Regions from separate parts of the Homo sapiens genome. Here region 2 is linked to region 1. The links come from fine-mapping of genetic effects on gene expression. A gene starts in region 1. The other region holds a variant in brackets. All regions are shown on one strand. Distances are from middle to middle.

What was found. PIP is the estimated chance that this variant, and not a neighbour inherited with it, causes the effect. A credible set is the group of variants that fine-mapping cannot tell apart.
Region 2: its variant is the best candidate, but not a certain one, in a credible set for the expression of EXTL1 in cerebellar hemisphere (GTEx, PIP 0.90).

What each region holds. Positions count from the first base shown.
Region 1 is chr1:26,019,665-26,024,047 of GRCh38, forward strand. It overlaps EXTL1 (exostosin like glycosyltransferase 1), which reads left to right and starts at 2,111. Exons shown (of 11, transcript NM_004455.3): 1 at 2,111-3,761. The coding sequence starts at 2,983.
Region 2 is chr1:25,869,553-25,873,935 of GRCh38, forward strand. PAQR7 (progestin and adipoQ receptor family member 7) reads right to left here. Exons shown (of 3, transcript NM_178422.6): 2 at 1,057-1,142. Among named protein-coding and RNA genes, the nearest start is that of PAQR7, 4.0 kb to the right of the region's middle. RefSeq lists enhancers at 164-665, 3,196-3,285. The variant G/A (reference allele first, on the strand shown) is at 1,799.

The DNA.
Region 1 (4,383 bases):
ATGAGATATTTATTCATTTTGTTTCTTGCCTATTTCCCCTCCCTGGAGGGTAAGTTCCAGGAGGGCAAGATTTTTTCTGCTTTGCTCACTGCCCTTAAGACCTGCCTGGCCCCACAATAGGGGTTCAGTAAATAGCTGTTGAATGAATGAGAGACTTGTGGGGTGACAGACCAGTCAAAAAGCTGTCCCTGCCTCCAGTCCTGCCATTTCCTGTCTGATCCCACACAGACAGCCACAGCGATTTTTCTAAAAACCACATTGCTGTCTTTCAGGTCTTAGGGTAGGTATCACTTCCTCGGAAGCCTTCTCTGGCCCCCTGGGCTAGGCAGCCCCTCTGTGTACTCTCAGGGTCCCCTCCCCTCATTCTGTAATTGCCTGCAATTGCCTAGTTCTATAATTGTCTTCTCCAGGACAGCGAGCTCTGGAGGGTGGGGACGCGTCTGTCTCCCTCCCTGTTGGGAGCTGGAATGGTGCAGCGGATATAGGAGCACACTACCTGGGTCCAAGTCCTGGCTAAGCCGTGAGAATTCAGGCAAATTACTTAAGCTCCCTCGGCCTCAGTTTTCCCAACTGTAAAATGTGGATCATCACAGTTTCTCCCTCCTAGGGTTGGGGAAAGGATGAAACAAGCTGATACAAAAGAGGGATGCTTGGCACGCTGTAAGTGCAATACGAGTGTCAGCTATGATTACTCTTACTCAGGGTTGTGTTCCTGGCCTAGCTCAGAACCTGGCCCATATTCAACACTCATAAGTGTTTGTTAGATGAATGGATGACTGTGTATGGGGATAGAGGGATGAAGGAATGACATGAGGACCTAGACGGGGGCTCTAACCCAGCCTGCGGAGCATTGGAGAAGCTTCTTGTGGGGAGGGAGCTTTCAGCTGACTCCTGCAGGATGAGGAGTTGGCTGGGCACAGTGAAAGGGGGGGCGTGCGAAGCAGCCAGTGGCCTTTGTGGATGCCTCTCAGTGTGGGAGGACTGAGTTATGCAGGAACTGCAGTTCATCACCGAGTGGCTGAGCCATTAGTGCCAAGAGGCAAGTGTCCCCTTTGTGGGCCATTTTTAGGACTCTCACACTGGCTGCTCACTGAGGGCAAAACATCCCACGGTGGCTCCCTGGTCTGATCAGCAGCCCTCCAAGATCAAGGGGAGGCACGCAGGGGAAAGGAGGCCACCACTTGTTGAGGGACCTCAGGGGACAGGCCTGCGTCAACCTGGCAACCCATTCCTGGCTGACATTATGCCCATCCCAGAGATAAGGGGACAGAGGCCCAACACCCCCGAGGCAGTCAGGGGAAGAGGCAGAACCCACTCAAGTCTGTCCACTCCCTGTGCCTTCCCTCATCAGCCCAGAACTCCTCATGGCCAGAGTGTGTCTCCCCCGTCACCCCAGAGATTCCTCAGTGGCTGACATCACCCACTCCTGACTCCCCTCACAGGGCACTGACCGGGGAAATCCCTCCATGGGGCCTGGACTATGGAAGAGTCAAGTGCAGGAAGAACTTTCCATAAGGACTGGAGCAAAAGGCTGGGAATTGGAGGAGATTGGGGGTGGGGCTGCTGAAGGAGGAGAGACCAATCCTGGGGACAGTTGGGGGCACCTTACCCAATTCCTCCACCCCCGCCCCTTAACTCCTCACTTGTCTCACCTGTTGACCTTCTCATGTGCCGATTCAGAGATTCCTCACACTCAGGCTCTGACCTCCACTGACTCTGATGGCCCACAGCAGGTGCAGGGTCTAGTTTTTCTCCAGCCACAGGGCCCACAGCTGGGGTGACCAACGACCAGGAGCTCAGGATTGAAATCCCCACCCTGCCACTTCTTAGCTGGGTCACCTTAGGAAGAGTTCATCCCCTCTCTGAGCTTTCCTCATCTGTAAGAAATGACAGGTAAATCTCTGCCTTGGAGGGTGGCTGGAGGACTGAGAGACAGAGGCTGTGATAACTCATGGCCAGCTGTGAGTTGCAGTACTTGCTGGTTGGATTAGCAATTGAGGAAACTGGTTTGGAAGGGGTTAAATGGAGACCCTGCCTCCCAGCCAGGAGCGAATCAGGGCTGGGAGGGGAGGAGCCAGGCTGCTGCTAAGGAAAGAGATCAGGATGGGCCAGTTGCCGACTGGAGAGGGATGGGAGGAGATACCATAGGGTTTGGGGGGCTTGGCACAGCGGCCCTGGCCTCTGCACTGTGATAGCTCCAAGCCAGATGGTGCAAGGCAGCTGCTGGGCTGCGGGGAAGAGGGGCTGCACTTCCTGAGCTGGTGCAGCGGCAGAGTGGATAAGGATCAGGACCCCGAGCCCTCCTGGCCCTCCAAGGCAGGGGGACACCGGCTGCACCCAGGCTGTGACCTCAGCTGACGCCGATGATCCACATGGGATGCAGGGTCTAATTTTAGCTCCAGCCACAGGGGCCACAGCCCAGAAGCGTCTGCCAGCGGGCACAGGGGCAGCCAGGGCTGCTCAGGCAAGGGGAGGAGTGGGAAGACCAGCCCAGCTCCCTCCAGCCTGTCCCTGGCCAAGCCGCCTCCTGTGGGAGCTCTGACTGGTCCCCATGGCCTGGCAGACAGCCCTCCTCTCAGTTGAGGGCAAGGTCAAGGGGTGCAGCCAGGAGGGCAGGGGGACACGGCCCTGCATTCTGGACAGGGGTTGCGTCAGCCAGAGCAGTGCCCAGGGGCAGGGGTCCCTGCTGGGAGGGAAAAGGCTGGCTTGGTTGTCCAAAGGCCGAGAAGGCAGAGTCCTGAGAGCAGGGGGGCCAGGCCAGCAAGCTGGGTCCCACCTGGCCTCCTCCTGCCTGGCTGGTGACTCACTATCTGACCTTAGACAGGCGGCCTGGTCTCGATGGGCCTCAGTCTTCCCATCTGTACAATGACAGCACAGGACTAGCAGGTCGGTCCCAGCTCTGGTCTCCCGCCCCAGGCCCTGCTCTTCCTGCTTGCTGGCAGAGGCCTCCCAGCTTCCCTAGCCCTGACTGTGGGTGGCCACATGCAGTCGTGGAGGAGAAGAAAGTCCCTGTGGCTGGCACTGTCAGCCTCCTGGCTCCTGCTTGTCCTGCTGGGAGGCTTCTCCCTTCTCCGCCTGGCATTGCCTCCCAGACCTCGGCCCGGGGCTTCCCAAGGCTGGCCCCGCTGGCTGGATGCAGAGCTCCTGCAGAGCTTCTCCCAGCCTGGAGAGCTCCCAGAAGATGCCGTTTCACCTCCTCAAGCCCCTCATGGTGGCAGCTGCAACTGGGAATCTTGCTTTGATACCTCAAAGTGCAGGGGCGATGGCCTTAAGGTATTCGTGTACCCAGCGGTTGGAACCATCTCTGAGACTCATCGCAGGATCCTGGCTTCCATTGAGGGCTCTCGCTTCTACACATTCAGCCCTGCTGGGGCCTGCCTCCTCCTCCTCCTCAGCCTGGACGCCCAGACTGGAGAGTGCAGCTCAATGCCTCTGCAATGGAACAGGGGCAGGAACCATCTGGTCCTCCGTCTCCACCCGGCTCCCTGCCCCAGGACCTTCCAGCTGGGACAGGCTATGGTGGCTGAGGCCAGCCCCACGGTGGACTCCTTCCGGCCCGGCTTTGATGTGGCCCTCCCTTTTCTCCCTGAAGCCCACCCGTTGCGAGGTGGGGCTCCTGGCCAGCTGCGGCAACACAGCCCCCAGCCCGGGGTAGCCCTGCTAGCCCTGGAAGAGGAGAGGGGTGGGTGGCGCACAGCAGACACTGGCTCCTCTGCCTGCCCCTGGGATGGGCGCTGTGAGCAAGACCCTGGACCTGGGCAGTAAGTGAACCTTTTGCCTTGGGGGCTGGATGGGAGGGGGCTGGAATAGACGCAAGCCCAAAAACGAGGGTAGAAGGCAGGACTGAGATGGGAGAACCAGGTAGTCCTGGTAGACTTAGGCCTCAGCTGCAGCAGCAGGAGGGAGCCAGGTTAGATGGCAGAGAGCACTTCCATTAAGATGGGGACTTGAAGCAAGGGTTGTCTAAGGTAGGTTTTGGAATTCTCCCCTGGGGATCTTTCAAAACATAAAACACGACTCATTCCAAACCTCCTACCCTAATATTTTTTTTCCCCACATACAGTTGTATAGTGCTTACTCTGTGCTAAGCACTTATATAAATAATGATTATAATAAAATATGCTAGTTGTTAGCATTTAAGTGTTTGTGTACCAGGCACGAAAGCTCAGACAGGTTAAGTAATTTTTCTCAGGCCACCCAGCCGGAAAGAGCCAGTATTTTGATCCAGAATTGCCTATCTCCAAAGCCTTCAGTATGAGAATTCTGAGTTTTAAGTAAAAGTTTATGATCAACCTCATCAAATGCCTCAGAAGGGCCTCACAGTCACAGCTGGAAGCTGCTCCCGTGTCTAATTTTGGGGATTAACCTCTCAAAGAAACAGCC
Region 2 (4,383 bases), 150 kb before region 1:
CAAAGTGAGACTCTCTAAAAAAAAAAAAAAAGAAAAAAGAAAGGAAAAAAAAAAGCTCCTTACCCAAGGTTGGAGGATGGGGGAGGGAGGTGGAGCCAGGACTGGGCTGTAGATGCTTGCAGACACTACTGCTGCCCTGCTCCAGGCACACTTGTCTGCATCCTACAGAACAACTTTGCAAAATCCTGGTCTAAAGCAGGCAACCAGGCTCTTTCTTATAAATTACTTTCTTAGGCTTCTAGCAATTCAGTCTCCCTCAGTTGCTGGCTACCTGCTTGCACCTGATCTTCTCCAGGGAGGCCCTGGCTCAAGCCACCTCCTTAGGTGAGTGACAGCGCTCGCTTATACCTCCCTCCCCCAGATATAATGGGCCCTATGGACAAAACCTGAGGCACCATGCTAGGATGACAGAGACCCCGCTGCCCTATTTTCTTTAGACCTCAGCTAGAGGCCTCACTCCACCTAAGTAGGTCTGTTTTCAGAATTAGTTTCCACCTCCTGACTCCATGGAAAGGGACTCTGATCCAGGGGAAAGGAAAAAGCAGGGGCAGGGGTCAAGCCTGAGCCAGCAGGATGAGGATGGATATCCGGAGGGCACCATCAGGGCATCCTCTGAGTGGTCAGCCTCTGAGTCGTGTGCCCACCAGGCTGCTGGGCCCTGTCTATTCAGGCAGCTCAGCCCAGCCCACCTCCATGGGCCCCTCCAAGTCTGGCAAATTGCACTGGGTACCTGGGGGTTTCTCTCAAGCCTGGGGGCTGGTGACCTCTACTATGGGACTGGGCAAATTCACCAGATGCTGAGCACTTCCACAGATGAGGGGCACTAGGGGCGGGGCTTCCAGGGACTGGGGGTGTCTTGTGTGATGTCACCAGAGGGTGGGGCTAAAGACAACCTCCCACACCTCTCCTCCCCAACTTCACCACTCCCATAGTGGTGAAATCCATGCTAAACTGTGTGCCTTCCTAGCCAGGCCTCTGCTGCAGCAAGCAGCTCACCATTCACCTCTGCATGAGACTTACGGGGAAACCGAGGGCCAGCTGAAAAGTTTGACTTACCTAAGATCACACAGCAGGGCAAAGGCAAAGCCAGGTGACTAGGGCCTGGTTGATGGTGTCAGGCAAACTTCAGTGGTTCCTGTCCACTACTCAGTGGGAATCAGAATGGAAGAAGGTTAGGAATAAAGGAAAAAGCAGACGGTATAAAAGTGCACAGAGCAGATGGACTTCAGATTCAGACAAACCAGGTTTGACTCCTGATTGCATAACATGCTAGCTATGTGACCTTAGACAAGTGACTTACCTTCTCTGATCCTTAGCTCCCTCATGGGAATGACAATATTATCTACCTCATAGGTTGCTGTAAAGATTAAATTTATTAGAACAAAGTTTTAGCTTCATTTAGGGACTCAACAAATATTGCAATTGTTATTAATAATAATAGTAGTAGTCTTTGAAATATCCCCAGCCTGAGAGATTTGCTTCGAGTTTTCTAAAAAAACCATCCTCTTTTAGCCCTCAATAGCTAGTTCCATTAGATTTGGGGGCCTCAGGAAGTTCACTGTGTGCTTAAACATTTACCTTATCCCTAGGGGTGTAGACCAGGGAAATCTGGCTAGAGTTTGGACTTCCAAGGACACTGACCTTACTTAATCATTAAATTGTTCTTAGCAAAGACCATTCAGAGTAACTGTTTTGAATTCACAGAGCCCTGTAAATTGGTGCTTACCCACAGGCCCAAGAGATGTGGCTAAGCAGTGACAGTCCCAGGGGAAGGGGCCTCAACTCCAGCAGCTCAGAA[G/A]CCCTGGAGAGCACGAGGGCACAAGAGGGTGAACCAAATTAGCAGGTGATCCAAATGGCATATGGTCTGGCCTGGACATGTCTTGCAGAAGGTTTGGGAGTCTTCTGGGTTGGCTGAACCTCTGAAGTGCGATCTCCAGGGCTCCAGTGGGAGTGCCTCTGTCAGCCTGAGCCGCTCCTTCCTCCCTTCCCCTCCCCTCCACTTCCTCACCCCTCCCAATTCATATTCCTCAACTCAAGGTCAGCCCTCCTCACCTCTCTCCTTAACGAAGGCTTGCAAGCCCCAGCCTGCTCTCCAAGGATACACACTGTCAAAGGTTCCCATAACACCCGTGGGGCAAAACAGACCAGGCTGCAGGGAGGTGGTGGAAAATGGGCTTATGGAGAGGGAGAGCCCTGGGTTACCCCCATCTCACAGATTTCACTCAGTGCTTATACTATATGCCAGCCTCAACGCTACCCAGGCATTCTGTGTGCTGGGGCACACAGAAAATGAAGCAGACAGGCTCCCTGCCCCAACGGGCTCACCCACACAAATGCCCACAGGGCCTAGGAAGATCCAGCCTGGAGGGAAGCCAGCCAGGTAGTGAGCCTGGAGAACTGGAGAAGACTGCTGCCCTGGTGGTGGACATCCTCCACTAATCTCTGCAGGCTCTCCGGCAGGCTGTTTCAAGAGACGCCACAGGCCTCATTTTTATGTGAGGATGAAATTTCGGGTCTGGAATTCACCTGCTGTGTGACTCTGCAACAGTCCCTCAACCTCTCTGAGCTTGTTTCCTTTTGGAATCAGAGGATTAAAATAGCTGCCTCTTGGGCTCTTGTGGAAGCAAAACAAAGCCATGGATGCCAGGTGTTGGCTCTGGCACAGTGCTGGCTCTGCCGTTTCTGTGGGATTCTCGTCCTGACTCAGCCACTCAATCCCTGTGTGACCTTGGACAAGTCCCCTCCCCTCTTGGCCCTGTTTCTCCAAATGTCAAAGGAGAGAGTAAATTCACCAGTGACTTCCAAGGGCCCTTAGGCCCTGGGACAGTCCAAGAATATTTACTTTAGGCCTCCTATGTGCCAGGCGCTGCAGCTTCCTCAGTGACAGAGCCATTTAAACCACTGCCCTCGCAGAACTAACAGCCCAGGGAATTCATACCAATGGTAACACCACAGGATTTTTTTTTTTTTTTTTTTTTTTTGAGACAGGGTCATGCTCTGTCCCCCAGGCTGGAGTGCAGTGGTGCAAACACAGCTCACTGCAGCCTTGACCTCCCAGTCTCCGGTGATCCTTCTTCAGCCTCTTGAGTAGTTGGGAATCACAGGCGCACGCTACCATGCCTATTTTTTTAAATTATGTGTAGAGACGAGGTCTTGCTATGTTGCCCAGGCTGGTCTCGAACTCCTGGTCTCAAGTCATCCTCCCACCTTGGCCTCCCAAAGTGTTGAGATTATAGGAGTGAGCCACAGTGCTCAGCCAACACCTCAATATATTAATACCCTGCCCTCCTGGAGCTTACAGCTCAGCTAAATAACACCTATTATAAGCATTATTTGGGTACAATTCCACTTCCTCTTTTGCCTCCTTCTTGGCATGCAAAATATTCGTTGTTGCCTTTCTGGGCCCTGATTGTTCAGCACATTCTCTTAAAGACAACTTTTTCTCAGCATGGAAGGGAAAGTCTAACCCCATTAGATACAAATAATAAGGCCAGACCAATGTTAATACTGGGGCTATTGGAGGAAAACCCTCTTGAAGGGTCTTTAGTGAGGATGACCCAATATGGCACCTGAAATATCATTAAGGAGATTAGGTGCTACCACTCATAATATATAGTGGCTGGGTGTTTACCAAGAACTTTCACACACATTTTACCTCTCCCTCACAACTCTCTGGATCCACAGCCAACCTGGGAGCCCAGCCCTGGAGGCGGGAGGGCAGAGCACATCTATCTGACTCCAAAACCAGCGCTCTTGCCCTTTGTCCACCGTGGGTAACTCCCAGGCACCCAGTGGTGACCACAGATTATACAGGCAAAGTTTTCATCCCTGGCTGGCCTCCCAGTCTCTTAGCAACTGGGTCACCTCCCTCAATGCAGGCTAACTCCCCAACTTGGTCCAAAGTGTTTAAAGAAAAAGTCCCTACATGTCTTCCAAAACTGAACAGAAACTGTTTTTTTTTTTTGTAACTTTGGCACTTGGGACCTCCATGTATTTGTACTGGAAAATGTGATCAGAATGAAATAAGTAACTATTTCTTTTCTTGAGATAGGGTATCACTCTGTCCCCAGGTTGAAGTGCAGTGCAGCCATCACTGCAGCCTCAACTGCCCAGGCTCAAGCCATCCTCCCACCTCAGCCTCCTGAGTAGCCCTGACCACAGGCACACAACACCACGCCTGGCTAATTTTTTTATTATGTGTAGAGACAAGGTCTCACTATGTTGCCCAGGCTGGTCTTGAATTCCTGGGCTTGAGCAATCCTCCTGCGTTGGCCTCTCAAAGTGCTGGGGTTACAATCATGAGCCACTGTGCCCAGCCTAATTCTTTTCTTTTCTTTTTTTATTTTTTGAGACAAAGTTTCACTCTTGTTGCCCAGGCTGAAG